Linked DNA regions of Homo sapiens: region 2 is linked to region 1. A link means that fine-mapping ties the variant in region 1 to the expression of a gene that starts in the linked region. Tissue or cell type: tibial nerve. Region 1 holds a variant in brackets; the other region holds the start of a gene. All regions are shown on one strand. Distances are between the middles of the regions.

Evidence for each region. PIP is the estimated chance that this variant, and not a neighbour inherited with it, causes the effect.
Region 2: EVI5 starts here. The variant in region 1 is fine-mapped to the expression of EVI5 in tibial nerve (GTEx, PIP 0.92).

Annotation. Positions count from the first base shown.
Region 1 is chr1:92,559,725-92,567,831 of GRCh38, forward strand. EVI5 (ecotropic viral integration site 5) reads right to left here. Exons shown (of 20, transcript NM_001350197.2): 19 at 3,918-4,013. Among named protein-coding and RNA genes, the nearest start is that of GFI1, 77 kb to the left of the region's middle. The variant C/G (reference allele first, on the strand shown) is at 3,511.
Region 2 is chr1:92,780,170-92,788,276 of GRCh38, forward strand. EVI5 (ecotropic viral integration site 5) reads right to left here and starts at 4,939. Exons shown (of 20, transcript NM_001350197.2): 1 at 4,667-4,939. RefSeq lists a silencer at 4,520-4,789 and an enhancer at 5,060-5,339.

The sequences.
Region 1 (8,107 bases):
GATCGCGCCAGTGCACTCCAGCCTGGGAGACAGAGCAAGACTCCCTCTCAAAAAAAAAAAAAAAAAAAAAAAAAGCTTCTTGGCATTCCCATGCAACTTATATGTGACCTCATCTGCAAAACCTTTCACAAACATCATTTTTTCATTAGAAACATTTTCACATAGTACCTACTACATGCCATCATTGTTCTATATACTGGGGGAAAAGTACTCAATCTCATTAATAATCAGGGAAATGCACATTAAAACCATAATGAGAAATCTCTTCATAGTCACAGAATGGCTAAAATAAGAAAGACTGACAATTCCACATGTTGATGAGGATGTAGAACAGTAAGAACTTTCTTCACTGCTTATAGACAGTATAAACTGGCATAAATCACTTAAAGCAATGTTCTTAACAGACCAACTGGAAATAATCCAAATGTTCACCAACACAGTAGATGAATAAATCATGGTATATTTATGCAAAGGAAAATTACACAGTGATGAAAATGAACAACCTACAGCTACATTTTAAAATGACAAAGTAAAATCTCACAAACAATGTTGAGCAAAACAAGCAAGACACAAAAGAAAACATACTGCAAGAATCCATTTATATAAAGTTCAAAAAGTTAAACTACTGTATTAGAAGTCTGAGATCATGGTTACCTTTGAGTAGAAGGGAGAGAGTACGGGTTGAAAGAGTATGAACAGGGCTCTTGGGTCTATTTCTTGGACCTAGGTAGTACCTACATGAGTGTGATCATTTTGTGATAATTTATTGAGCTGTAAACTTTTGACTTGGACACGTCTCTGTATGCTATGCTGCTATACAAAACTTTTTTTTCTTTTTTTTTTGAGACAGGGTCTTGCTTTGACACCCAGGCTGGAGTGCAGTGGTGATCACGTTTCAGTGATCACGGTTCACTGCAGCCTTGACCTCCTGGGTTCAAGTGATCCTCCTGCCTCGGCCACTGGAGTGGCTGGGGCCACAGGTGCATGCCACCAGGCCTGGCATTTATTATTATTATTTTTAATAGAGATGGGGTCTCCCTATATTGCTCGGGCTGGTCTCGAACTCCTGGGCTAAAGTGACCCTCCAACCTCGGTCTCCCAAAGTGCTGGGATTACAGGCATGAGCCATTGCACCCAGCCTACAAAAGCTTTTTTTTTTTTTTAAAGCTTCTGTTCTTTATCTAACTTTCATGATTATGAAGCCATTCAAATGTTAAGGATAATAACCAGGGAACTCACTAGGTCTCCTTTGTGAGGAAGCAGTGGAGAACTTGTTATTTAATCTTAGTATCAGGAATAGATGTGGCTCTTCTAGCTAATTGGTCTGTTTTCATCACATAGACACTCTGAAATGTTTAAGTGACCAGGTTTTCTTTTGCGTTGGCTGCTAAAAGCCTTAGAGCCAAATCTGAGGCCCACTTACAGGAAAGAGATATTTTTATGGTAAGCATTTTTATAATGGTCTTATTCATGCTTCCATATTATATTTCTACAGTTTTTTTCTTTCCTTTTTCTCCCAAAATTGTAGTTTATTATTTTGTAGCAGTTGCAAATTTCCTTAATTCTATCTGCAACAAGGAAGGGTATTAATAAATAAAAATGCTTTAAAGGTTTTTTTTCCTTTCTTTTCAAAAAGATGCAGTTTGGTTTCCACTCTTTAAATCTGCACAATCTAGCTTTTAATTTTAACAGTAGAAAATTCTACTCTGTTGATTAATTTTCTTTTCATGTTTGTATAAGGTAAGACTGCTTTCTTAGGCCACACGTAAAAAACTGACATTAAAGTTAAACTTCATGTGAGTTATTTTCTGGCAGTCCTGATGAGACTGACTATCTATCTATCTATCTATCTATCTATCTATCTATCTATCTATCTAATCTATCCTATCTATCTATCTATCTATCTATCTATCTATCTATCTATCTATCTATCTATCTATCAGAGTCTCACTCTGCTGCCTGGAGTGCAGTGGCATGATCTCAGCTCACTGCAACCTCCGCCTCACAGGTTCAAGCGATTCTCCTGCCCCAGCCTCCCCAGTAGCTAGGTTACAGGCACACACCACCATGCCTGGCTAATTTTTGTATTTTTAGTAGAGATAGGGGTTTCACCATGTTGGATGGGCTGGTCTCAAACTCCTGACCTCAAGTGATCTGCCTGCTTCAGCCTCCCAAAGTGCTGGGATTATAGGCGTGCGCCCACACCTGGTCAGAATATCATTATTTTTAGTCAAAGCATATGACAGGGAAAGTTAATGTTTGTTGACTGACTTTTACATTAGTTTTAGAAATAAAGTCAATCTATACGTAACTTTCTTGTTTCAGCAACATTAAAGCTTCCTTATAATGAGACATCAAAATTTTAAATGGGAGGTTGCTTTATTTTAATCACAATTTCCTCTGAGAACACCTTTTGAACATAAATAATTCCTGGGGTTCTCAAAAGAATAAAGATTTCTACAACACACTTAATTGTAACTTGTTCTTTCACACTATGGCTATCGATTTAAAAATATTATAATAGGCCAGGTGCAGTGGCTCATGCCTGTAATCCCAGCACTTTGGGAGGCTGAGACGGGCGGATCATGAGGTCAGGAGATCAGGACCATCCTGGCTAACACAGTGAAACCCCGTCTCTACTAAAAAAATACAAAAAATTAGCCAGCCTGGTGGCGGGCGCCTGTAGTCCCAGCTACTCAGAAGGCTGAGGCAGAAGAATGGCATGAACCTGGGAGGCGGAGCTTGCAGTGAGCAGAGATTGCACCACTGCACTCCAGCCTGGCCGACAGAGCGAGACTCCGTCTAAAAAAAAAAATTATAATAAATACACACAAATAGGTAAAGATTATATGTAAGATCCTGAATCCCTCATATGTTATCATGGCTGAAAATTGATATTTACAGGAATGATTCCCCAAATTTCAAAACAAATTAAACTGAGCCACATCTAAGATTTACTGTTTTTGTTTATGTTTTGTTTCTTCTTCATTTAGAATTAACTCTTAGACTGACTACCTCCAGGAGGTATTACCCAAAACATACAGACTTTAACTGAAGGGTGTAATACCAGGAAAGGGTAACGTCTAAACTTTTTCCTGTGAGGTTTAAATTCATCTAGTGGTCAAAATTTCTCTTTCTTCTTCTTTTTAAACAAATAAAGGTTATACTACCCTCTCAAATCTCATCACTGTGAATAAACATTATTTTATAAATAATTCAAAACAAGAAAGATGGTATTCCATTAGTGTTTAGCCAAATATTATCATTAAAACAGAAAATAATAAAGGATAAGAAAATTGACCTCGAGCCACATTAACATATCTCTCTAATCAAAACATACTAAATACTTTAAATTACTCAGTATAGTACTTGGTAAAACTGAAAATTTTGTGAGTTGAATCTCACAGATTCAAGGTAGTACCAGTTTAAAAAGCATTCAGATACTAAGAAATCTGTTAACTGATATTAGGCAAGTATCCTTTTTTGCAATCTCAGTAATACCATCATGAG[C/G]GGTAAAAGAAGACAAGAGTAAAAAGACTTCCTTCTGCATGCAACGGTAAATACCACAAATCTATTCTATAGGTATAAGCAAAATTTTAGTTTAGTTAAAGTAACTTTGACATCTATGCAAACTATCAAGAGTTTTTACACCACAATAAAAAAATAAAATATTTGCCATGAAAATATTAATTTATCATTCTAGGTCATGCTAATGAGGTTAAGGGAAATAAATCCCCAATATTAGAACAGAAGATCCTTGCTAAAAAGACAATTTTCAAAAATGTTATTAATTATAACCAATAATTCACAGAAGATATTCAGCATGAAAGTGTCAGTCTTATAACCAGTAATAAAGTGTTGTTACAATACAGAGGAAGGAAGAAAGCAATATGTGAAGATCAAAATTTATCACTTACCTCATGATTCAGCTCTGCTATCTGATCTTTCAGTTCCCCAATATACTGGTTAGAATCAGACTTGTTAAGCTGTCCTTGAAGCTTTCCTTCTTCTTTCTGTTTTGTGACAAAACAACAAAGCAAAAACAAGAGGCAATTTTTCACAGCATGTACTCAAATAGTTCAAGGTATAGGAAAAGCATAGGCACATACCCTTTAATCACCTGAATTCTGAACAAATCCATTCTCAAACTACCTCTGACAAACAATTCATAATGAACTATGCTTTAATTAATTAATTAATTTATTTATTTAGAAACAGAGTTTCGTTCTTGTTGCCCAGGCTGGATGGAGTGCAACGGTGCCATCTCGGCTCACCGCAACCTCTGCCTCCCGGGTTCAAGCAATTCTCTTGCCTCAGCCTCTAGAGTAGCTGGGATTAACAGGCATGTGCCACCACGCCTGGCTAATTTTGTATTTTTAGTAGACACAGGGTTTCTCCATGCTGGTCAGGCTGGTCTCAAACTTCTGACCTCAGGTGTGATTATTTCTTTAAAAATGCTTAATAAAGGTTGTTTATAATAAATATAATTTATAAAATATATCTTTTGAAAGAGTCTCAGAAATCAGTAATTGAATGGATCTACTGATGAAAAAATTACCCTAGAATTTCAAAGTAATTTATCTAGTTATTTTGAGGGCAGATGATTTTCTATTCATACCGTAAGGGATTCAATACTTAGTCAAGAAGATGGCAAGCTTCCCATATTCTTTCATTCTTGGGAATCTGCTTTTGCTTGGGGAACAGAAAAGGGGGGAAAAAAAAGAAAAAGTTGTCCAAATCACTCTAAAAAGGGGAGGACAACTTTGAGTCTCCTCTGGTTAATTAGCTCTCGATGTGGACTGGAAGTCCCAGATACAGCTGATTAAAAGCTGCTTCTGATCCTAAGAGTTTGTTTCAGGTGAGCACTGGGACTATTTTCTAGGGATATAGATTGGTGAAGAGAGGCACTTTTTCTTATACCACCTGAAAACGAACATAAATTATTTTTCAGATAAAGATTTTTTTTTTTTTTTTTGAGATGGACTCTCGCTGTCACCCAGGCTGGAGTGCAATGGCGCGATTTCGGCTCATTGCAACCTCTGCCACCTGGGTTCAAGCAATTCTCCTGCCTCAGCCTCCTGAGTAGCTGGGATTACAGGTGCCCAGCACTGCGCCTGGCTAATTTTTGTATTTTTAGTAGAGACAGGGTTTTGCCATGTTGGCCAGGCTGGTTTCGAACCCCTGACCTCAGGTGATCCGCCCACCTTGGCCTCCCAAAGTGCTGAGATTACAGCGTGAGCCACCATGCCTGGCCTAGATAAAGAACTTATTAAACAGTGAAACTAGAATTGTTTTTGATGTCTCCAGATTATTTATAATTAGGAAGCCATGTGTTGATGCTTAAAATGTTAAGCAGCTCTGATCCGGAGCCATCTACTGAAACTACTGAGTAACTCCTGATACCAAAAGAGTATGGGCTTACTTTTAACAGTTGCCAATCACCCAGTTTCCTTTCATGGAGACAACAATTGTTAACAGTTTTTTGGTGTAGTCTTTCCACGATATTTTACACATATATAATCAAACACACATGAATACATGCACACGTTTATCCATACTACAGACACTATGTATGCTACTCTGTACTTTGCTATTATCTCTCAATAATACAACTTGAAGATCATTCAATATCAGTACATATGGAGCAGAAAGATACACATTCTAACTTTAGAGAGCTTTGAAATTCCTGTAAAAGTTACCTTAGTAATATCCAAGTATTTACAGGTTTTTTTAAAAGCAGGTTTAAAACGTGTCTTACAATTACCTTGAGAGAAATGGGTTGCTGTGAAAAGCATTTGTCAATGTGGAGATTCCTCCCATATTTAAAATCACAGTCAGAAGGGACCTTGAACATCCTCTGACTTAGTCCTCTGACTGGTCAACTCTACCCTCCAACTTCATCCTACATACTGTATACTAACATCATTGGCAGGAAGTACCAAATAGAACTGTTCTAGCAACAGGCCAGGCGCGGTGGCTCATGCCTGTAATCCCAGCACTTCAGGAGGCCGAGGCAGGTGGATCACCTGAGGTCAGGAATTCAAGACCAGCCTGGCCAACATGGTGAAACCCTGTCTCTACTAAAAATACAAACGATTAGCCGGGTGTGGTAGTGTGTGCCTGTAATCCCAGCTACTCAGGAGGCTGAGGCAGGAGAATCGCTTGAACCTGGGAGGCGCAGGTTGCAGTGAGCTGAGATTGCGCCACTGCATTCCAGCCCGAGCAAAAAAAAAAAAAAAAAAAAGAAATGTTCTAGCGACAGAGTGGGTAGCACTCCTATAGGGTCAAGCATCTTTCCAACAACACTGCTGTTCTGTGTTAACTGTCCTCCCTACCCAAATTGTATCTCTAACTACCCTTAGTTTGTTCTTCAACTCCTTTCATCGACTTATTCCTAAAAACTCCCTGTTTTTTGTTTGTTTTGCTTTGTTCTCTTTCTTTTGACAATCTGTCTTAAAAACCTTTTACTAGAATATGGCCTGCTGAAGTGGTTTAGTGTAATTAATATTTGCATAGATATAAAAGCCCAACTACAGCTTCTATAGACTTAAAAATTTTTTCTTATGCAGTCATGTTCCACATAATGATGTTTTGGTCAATGACGGAATGAATACATGATGATGGTCCCATAAGATTATAATAAGAAATTCGTAATGCCTAGTGACATTGTAGTTGTACAATGTCATAGTAAAACACATTACTCGTGTTTGTGGTGGTGCTGGTGTAAAGAAATCTACTGTGCTGCCAGTTGTATAAATGTATGGCATATACAATTATGCACAGTGGATAATAATTGACAATAATAAATGACTATGTTACAGATTTATGTATTTAACATACTATATTTTTTATTATTTTAGTGTATTCTTTTTATTTATACAAGAAAAATTAACTGTAAGCTTCAGCCTGGTCCTACAAGAGATATTCCAGAAGAAAGCATTGTTCTCATAGGAGATGACAGCTCCATGTGTAATACTATTGCCCCTGAAGATCTTCCAGTGGGACAAGATGTAGAGGTAGAAGACAGTGATCCTGATGATCTTGACCCTATGTAAGCAGAGAATAATGTGTGTGCCTGCTTTTTTTTTTTTTTTTTTTTTTTTGAGGCAGAGTGCCCCTCTGTCCAGGCTGGGGTGCAATGGCACAATCTCGGCTCACTGCAACCTCCACCTCCCAAGTTCAAGCGATTCTCGTGCCTCAGCCTTCTGAGTAGCTGGGACTACAGACGCACACCACCATGCCTAGCTAATTTTTATATTTTTATTAGAGACGGGGTTTCACCACATTGGCCAGTCTGGTCTTGAACTCCTGGCCTCAAGTGTTCCGCCCACCCGCCTTGGCCTCCCAAAGTGCTGGGATTTACAGGCGTGAGCCACCACGCTCGGCCATGTGCCTAAGTTTTTAATAAAAAAGTTTAAAGAGTTAAAAAAACAGCTTATAGAATAAAGACACAGAGAAAGAAGATATTTTTGTACAGCCATACAATATATTTAAACTAAGTGTTATTATAAGAGTCAAAAAGTTAAAAAAAATTAAGTTTATAAAGTGAAAAAGTTACACTAAGCTAAGGTTAATTTATTATTGAAGAAAAAGAAAATAAATTTACAGTATAGATTAACTGTACTGTGTTTATAAAGTCTACAGTAGTGTGCAGTAATGTAGGCCATTCACTCACTGACTCACCCAAAGCAACTTTCAGTCCTGCAAGCTCCATTCATGGTACCATGCTCTATACAGGTGTACCATTTTAAATCTTTTATATCATATTTTTACTGTACCTCTTCTATGTTTAGATACACAACTTCTGACCATTGTGTTACAACCGCCTACAGTATTCAGTAGAGTAACATGTTGTATAGGTTTGTAGCCTAGGAGAAATAGGCTATACCATATAGCCTAGGTGAGTAGTAGGCTATACCATCTGGGTTTGTGTAAGCACACTCTATGATTCACACACTGATGACATTGCCTAAGTATGAATTTCTCAGAACATATTCTAGTTAAGCAATGCATAACTGCATATTTACACATACTAATATCAGATACAGTTATCTAAGCCAAAACTGTCTTATTTAACAATTACTATATTCCAAATATGCTAGGCTTC
Region 2 (8,107 bases), 220 kb after region 1:
GGGCATTCATTCGCTCTCCTGTTCCCCTGTGAAGAGGTGCTTTCCACCATGGTTGTAAGTTTCCTGATGCCTCCCCAGCCATATGGCACTGTAAGTCAATTACACCTCTTTTCTTTATAAATTACCCCGTCTTGGGTATTCTTCATAGCAGCATGAGAACAGACTAATACACCTGTGAGACTCCAGACTCAAGAAAAGTAAAGTAAGGCTCAAGGCTGAAAGCCAAGGGGTTAAACAGAAGTGTGTTTGATGAAAAGCAGCCCCTGCCCACAGCCCACTTTCTTTGCCCACCTCTCAAAGTTGGAGAGCTTATATTACCACATATCAAAGCTTATTATAAAGTTACATTAATACAGTGATATTAGTGCAAGGATGACAAATATACAAATAGAACAAAGTATCCAGAAACAGACCCACACTAATTTCATAAATTAGCTGACCATACTGTTATCTAATTTATGAAAAAAAGTGCCACACAGTGCAGATGGACAAGGATGGTATTTGCAATAAATGGTGCTGGATCAAACAGACGTCTATATAGAAAAAAGTGAATCTTGGCCCGGTGCAGTGGGTCATGCCTAAATCCCAGCACTTTGGGAGGTCAAAGCAGGTGGAGATCATGTTACTGCACTCCAGCCTGGGTGATACAGTGAGACCTTGTCTCAAAGAAAAAAAAAAGTAAATTTTTTTTTTTTTTTTTGAGACCGAGTCTCACTCTGTCGCCCAGGCTAGAGTGCAATGGCACAATCTCGGCTCACTGCAACCTCTGCCTCCTAGGTTCAAGCGATTCTCCTGCCTCAGCCTCCTGAGTAGCTGGGATTACAGGCACCCGCCACCACGCCCAGCTAATTTTTGTATTTTTAGTAGAGACAGGGTTTCGCCATGTTGGCTAGGCTGGTCTCAAACTCCTGACCTCATGATCCGCTCGCCTCGGCCTCCCAAAGTGCTGGGATTTCAGGCATGAGCCACCACGCCCGGCCTAAAAAGTGAATCTTGACCCCTGCGATTCATCAAGAATTTACTCTAAATTATATACCTTAAATGCAAAAAGTAGGGGATGGGTACAGTGGCTCACACCTGTAATCCCAGCACTTTGGGAAGCCGAAGAGGGCAGATTGCTTGAGCCCAAGAGTTTGAGACCAGCCTGGGTAATATGTTGAAACCCTGACTCTACAAAACATACAAAAATTAGCCAGGCATGGTGGCATATGCCTGTAGTCGTAGTCACAGCTACTCAGGAGGCTGAGGTGGGAGGAATGCTTGAGCACAGGAGGCGGAGGTTGCAGTGTTCTGAGACTGCACCACTGCACTTCAGACCCTGTCTGAAAAAAAAAAAAATTTTTTTTGCAAAAAGTAAAATAAAATTGCTATAAGACAACACAGAAAAATATGTTCATATTCTCAGGTTAGGCATTGATTTCTTAAATAGGACACAAAAAGCAGTAACCATAAAGGACAAGATTGATAAAGTATACTTCATTAAAATTAAGAATCTCAGGCTGGGTGCAGTGGTTCATGCCTGTAATCACAACACTTTGGGAGGCTGAGGCTGGTGTAGGTGTATGACTTGAGCCCAGGAGTTCGAGACCAGCCTATGCAACATGGCAAAACCCCATTTCCACTAAAGATACAAAAATTAGCTGGGCATGGTGGTGCTCATCTGTAGTTCCAGCTACTTGGGGGTTAAGGCAGGAGGAATACCTGAGTCTTGGGAGATCAAGATTGCAGTGAGCCGTGATCGTGCCACTGCACTCCAACCTGGGCAACAGAGTGAGATTCTGTCTCAAAAAAAAAAAAAAAAAAAAAAAAGGCCAGGCACGGTGGCTCACACCTGTAATCCCAGCACTTTAGGAGGCCGAGGTGGATGGATCATGAGGTCAAGAAATCAAGACCACCCTGGCCAACATGGTGAAGCCCTGTCTCTACTAAAAATACAAAAATTAGCCGGGCATGGTGGCACACACCTATAGTCCCAGCTACTCAGTAGGCTGAGGCAGGAGAATTGCTTGAACCCGGGAGGCGAGGGTGCAGTGAGCCGAGATCGCGCCACTGCACTCTAGCCTGGCAACAGAGTGAGACTCCATCTTACAAAACAAACAAACAAAAAACACACACACACACAAATTAAGAATCTCCAGGCATGAAAAAAAACACCATTAAAAGACTGAAAAGGCAAAATACAGACTGAAAAAAATAAAAATGCAATACATATATATCCTAGAAAGGACTCATATCCAGAATAAAGCATTATAAATGAGAGAAAAATAAGCATATCAACGAAAACTGGGCAAAAAGACTTAACAGGCACTTCACAAGAGGAAATATAAATGGTCAACAAAAGATACTCAACCTCAGTACCAGGAAAATGCAAAATGAAACCACACTGATATATTACTGTACCTCTACTAGACTAGCAAAAAAAATTTCAACTGACAAGCACCAGCAAGGATGTGGGGTAACCGGAACATTCCCTGCTAATTGGTAGAACCACTTTGGGAAAATGTTCAACAATTTCTAATACTAGAGTTTTATCACCCACGTACCTATAAAACCAACAATGCCACTCCTACGTACATACTCCAATCTAGTAATGTCCTATTTCTTGATCTTTGGTGGTTCACTTAGTAAAAATTCATTACCTGCGATGTTTTTTGTTTTTGTTTTTTTTGAAAGACGGTCTCACTCTGCCGCTCAGGCTGGAGTGCAGTGGCATGATCAAGGCTCACTGCAACTTCGACCTCCCCGGCTTTGGTGATCCTCCCACCTCAGCCTCCTGGGTAGCTCGGACTACCAGCGCACACAACCACACCCAGCTAATTTTTGTATTTTTAGTAGAAAATGGGGTTTTGCCACGTTGCCCTGGCTGGTCTCAAACTCCTGGGCTCAAGTGATCCACCTGCCTCTGCCTCCCAAAATGCTAGGATCACATGCGTGAGCCACCGCACCCAGACCACCTGCACATTTAGAATTGTGAACTTTTTCTCTATACTTCAATAACTTAGTTCTAAGATTTATTTGACACAAAGTTCTCGGAAATCGTAGTTATCATTTTAGAACAGAAAAAAGACCACCTGGGCCAGGTGCGCTGGCTCACGCCTGTAATCCCAGCACTTTCGAAGGCCGAGGCGGGCAGATCATTTGAGGTCAGGAGTTCGAGACCAGCCTGACCAACACGGTGAAACCCCGTTTCTACTAAAAATACAAAAAAAAAAAAATTAGCCGGGCGTGGTGATGTACGCCTGTAATCCCAGCTACTCGGGAGGCTGAGGCAGGAGAATATATCCAGCCTAGGCAACAGAGTGAGACTCAGCCTTAAAAAAAAAAAAAAAAAAAAAAAAGAAAAGAAAAGAAAAGAAAAAGAAGGCCGGGCACGGTGGCTCACGCCTGTAACCCCAACACTTTGGGAGGCTGAGGCGGGTGGAACACGAGGTCAAGAGATCAAGACCATCGTGGCCAACATGGTGAAACCTCATCTCTACTAAAAATACAAAAATTAGCTGGGAGTGGTGGCGCGCGCCTGTAGTCCCAGCTACTCGCGGGGCTGAGGCAGGAGAATTGCTTAAACGCAGGAGGTGGAGGTTGCAGTGAACCAACGTCGCCACTGCACTCCAGTCTGGCGACAGAGCGAGACTCCCTGTCAAAAAAAAAAAAAAAAAAGAAAAGAAAAGAAAAAGAAAAAGAGCTTCTGGTACACTGGTGAAATTCTACTAACAAAATTTTAAAACAAAAAAAGTTACTTACATCAGCTCAGAACAAAGATTAAAAACTACCAGCAGATCACTTTTCTTTAACTTCAGTAAGCACTGGAATTCATTCTTTCGGCAAAGAAAGGAGTTTATTATTCAACACTGTAACCCAAAGAAAAGATACCACTTCAAGAAAATACTTCTTTTCGAAAGCAGCTCTACCAGCAATAGATAGGAGGAAAGCGAGGAAACCATTCCAAAAGGCTTGGTTTAACTCTTGGGTGAAAGGATGCCAAATGAGATGATCTAAGAAGCCCCAAAGACAGACAGACAGACAGACACAGGGAAATCACAGCAACTCTTTTGAGTGGAAACACCAACACCACAATCCAACCTACCGGAAATCCTGAGGTTAATTTGAGGCTTGCCCCACTAGTCATAAGGTGATTCAGGAATGGCTACAAACTCTTCTCAAGTTCATTCTGGACCTGGCACATCTGTCTTGCCCATCAGCAGCCTGGAGACACGCCATGCGCAGAATCCCGGAGGCCAAGTAAAGACGCCAACTTTGCAAGTCAGGGGGGCGAGTGCTCTCGCCCCTCAGGTCCCCAAAGGGAACCGACTTCTGGCCTCGAGGGTGGGGTGCAGGGTCAGTGTCCTCCACGGGATTTACGAGGACGTGCCCCCGAAGCTGCTCCGTCCCTCCACCGCCCTGGGACGCCACAGTTAGACCCGCCGACGAGTTTCTTCCCCAGCGCCCACGAGAAGGAGGGCTGCGGGCGGCGGCGGCGGCGACAGGCGAGGAAGCGAGTGCAGGGAACTTAGGCCCTGGCGGGGCCAGGCGCGCCCGCCCCGCTCCCACAGCAAAACTTGCGGCGGCCCCCGCCCGCCGCGCCTCGGCCCAGCTGTGCGCCAGCGGAACACGGACTCACCGCCCGCCCGGCCTCCCGGCCCGCCCGGCCTGGCGCAGCGCCCCTCACCTTGGAAACGTTGAGTAGACTTCGCCGTAAACATTAACTTCCCATCCAGCCGGCAGCCGCGCCGCCGCGTCTCAGCGCCTCGGCCCCGCTCCTGGCTCCACGGGTCGCCCGTCCCGAGTTCCCAAAAGCACCACGCTCACTCAGAAGCTCAGGGCCGCCTCGCGACCCTCACCTACCCCTCCCGGCACCGCCGCTGTCGGAACTGCAGCCAGCCCCTTGCCAGCTGGCCAGCTGGTTCCTCCGGGGTCCGGCCCGGCCGCGTCAGGAGAGCCCAAGGCGCAGGCGCGGGAGGGCCTTAAAGAGACCCGGCAGCCTCTACCGCAGAATGGGTTGGAGCAGGTTAGGGGCCGGGCGGGCCGGCCGAGAAAAGGAGAAGGCGAAGGGATTGGACGGAGTGCAGAGGAGGCGGGGAAATCGCTCTCGCCCTCCGCCTCTCTTTCAAAGCACCAGCCTTCAGTCCTGCAAGTCGCCGACTTCCCCGGCCACTGGAACCGCCCCTTCCATGTTAAAACGGTAGAAGACACACCCCCTCGGGGGCCCGAAGCGACCCCGAGCTTAGGACTGCAGGCCTCGCGCTGCCGCACCGACGCGGAGCCTGACTTTCAGGGCCCTGGCACGCGGTGCTGACGCGCATGCTTCGGAAGGCAGCCCCGAGCTCCCCCAGAGGTGGCCTTAGGGCACTCGCAAAAACAATAATCAACGCGTAAATGACACTTGTAATTGTAATGTACTCTTACACGTGTCTTCGCATTGGGTTTATGCAGACTACTGCAGGGGGCAGAACATGGGCACGAATACGTAAGATTCAGCCGGGCAGCCCTCCAGCGTCAACGAAGACATTCTTAGAAGGAAAGTACTTTGTTTGGGACGGAAACAGCCTATTAATTTCTGGTCCAGGAAAAGCAGGCAAGAAAAAGTAAAAAGGCAATACAGATTACTTTCATTATATGTTTAGAAGTGACAGCCGGGCGCGGTGGCTCACACCTGTAATCCCAACACTTTGGGAGGCCGAGGCGGGCGGATTGCCTGAGGTCAGGAGTTGGAGACCAATCTGGCCAACATGGTGAAACCCCGTCTCTACTAAAAATACAAAAAAAAAAAATAGCCCGGCGTCGTGGCGTGCGCCTGTACTCCCAGCCAAGCTACTCTGGAGGCTGAGGCAGGGGAATTGCTTGAACCACGGAGGTGGAGGTTGCAGTGAGCCAAGATCGCGCCACTGCACTCCAGCCTGGGCGACAGAACGATACTCTGTCTCAAAAAAAAAAAGGGACAAAAATTATAATAATTAGCAGCACAAGAAACTCCGGAATTATTTGTCTAGAAATTAGTATCCCTATTTTTAAATTTAAATTTATAAGACAGAATTCGCAGATGGGTTTCCACTGAACTAAGCATTTCAGAAAAAAAAAAAAAAAAAAACCTTACTTTTTTTTCAACAAGATTAGGAAATACCAAGAAATAGGAAGTAAAGCCATGCCCTCCACCCAGCTAAAAACTTTGAAAACTTGAACTTTTATCTGAGGCATATGTTTGCATAACTTTAGGTTGTGCCATTATTTAAAGAAATTTCAATTAACAATTTTATTGCAACTCAATCCTTGTATAAGAAAACTAAGCTACATCCTTGATAATGTACCTCTCCCCTCTTATATTCCATCCGTCAGCAAATTCTATTGGTTTTTCCCTTACAAATGGTCCTTGAATCTGTCCTCTCCTATTTCCTCCATCACCACCCTAGTCTAGGCTACCTTCACCTGGGGAGTGGGGGTGGAGGGATTACTGACCTAGTCTTCTTGTGGTTTACCCATATTCCCTTTATCCCCTCTCTAATCTCAACACAACAGGCAGAGTGACTTTTTCAAAATAACAGTGTGACCCTGTCACTTCCCAGCCTAAACCACTTAAACACTTTCCCATTCTCTTAGAAAAAACCCTCCTAACTAACCAAGCCCTGAATGGCCAGGTGCCTTGCCCACCTCTCCACCTCTTCTCACTGCTCAGACCAATTCCACCCTGCTGTCTGTGCTCCAGCCACGCTAGCCTCTTTTATTCCCTATTTACCGGCTTCCTGGCCTCAACAGAGCTTTTACTCATGCTTTGCTCTGTGCCCAGAAAGTTCTCCCAGTCCTCATCCTTTGACAACGGCTCTAGTATCCACCTCTGAGAAGCATCTTCTGACCTCCCTATGGTGGTCTCTTACTCCTTTCACATCGCATGAAACTGTAATTGGGTAGTTATATTGGTGAATTTTTTACTATTAGCTCCTTAAGTCCAGGATTTGATTTTGTTTGTTTCATGGTTGTATTTTCATATTTGTTAAATATATATTTGTTCAGTAAATGAAAATTATAGATGCTAAAACTTAAACTAAATTTGGCATAAAGTCAGAGAAAGGTAAAATGTCACCATCTGACATTTGGAATCAGAATCTAAAAACTTCAGTTATGTTAAAACTGATTTTATATCATTTTAGCTGGGTTGTCACAAGATTCTTTGGGTAACCTTTAAAACAGTTCTCAAAGAGCCTTTTGTAAGCACCTGAATTAATAATGATAAGACATGGGATGGCCCACATAAAACTAATAACATTGATTGCTTCAAGAGAGGAAGACTGAGCCAAGCACGGTGGCTCACGCCTATAATCTAAACACTTTGGAAGGCTGAGGCCGGCGGATCATTTAAGATCAGGAGTTTAAGACTAGCCTGAGCAATATGGCAAAACCCTATCTTTACAAAAAAAAAATACAAAAAAAAATTTAGACAGGTGTGGTGGTAGGCACCTGTAGTCCTGCTACTTGGGAGCCTGAGGCAGGAGGATTGCTTGAGCCTGGAAGGGTGAGGCCGAAGTGAGCCATGATCGTGCCACTGCACTCCAGCCTGGGCGACAGAGAAAGATCTTGTCTCAAAAAAAAAAAAAAGAGAGAGAAAGAGAGAGGAAGACTGGGTGACTGGTGGGTACCAGTGGGAAGGAGATTTTTACTGCATGCCCAAAAGGTTTAAAATTGTACCTTTTTTATCTTAAAGTATGTGAATTATCTATGTGAAGATAAATGACACAAAGTATGTGAATTATCTATGTGAAGATAAATAAATGACACAAAAGAGTGTCATACTGTTCCATTTATTTGAAATTCTAGAAAAGAAAATTAATCTGTGGTGAAAAAAAATCATAACAGTGGTTCCCTGTGGCAGGGGATTGACTGGGATGGTACATGAGTGAAATTTCTGGGTGGTAAAAATGGTCTCTATCTTGATAGGGATGTGAGTTACATAGGTATATTCACTTATCAAAAAATATGCAGGTAACATTTCAGTGAATGTAAATTTTACCTTAAAAACTATAAAAAATAGTGGCCGGGCGTAGTGGCTCACACCTGTAATCCTAGCACTTTGGGAGGCCAAGGTGGGTGGATTGCCCGAGCGGAAGAGTTCAAGACCAGC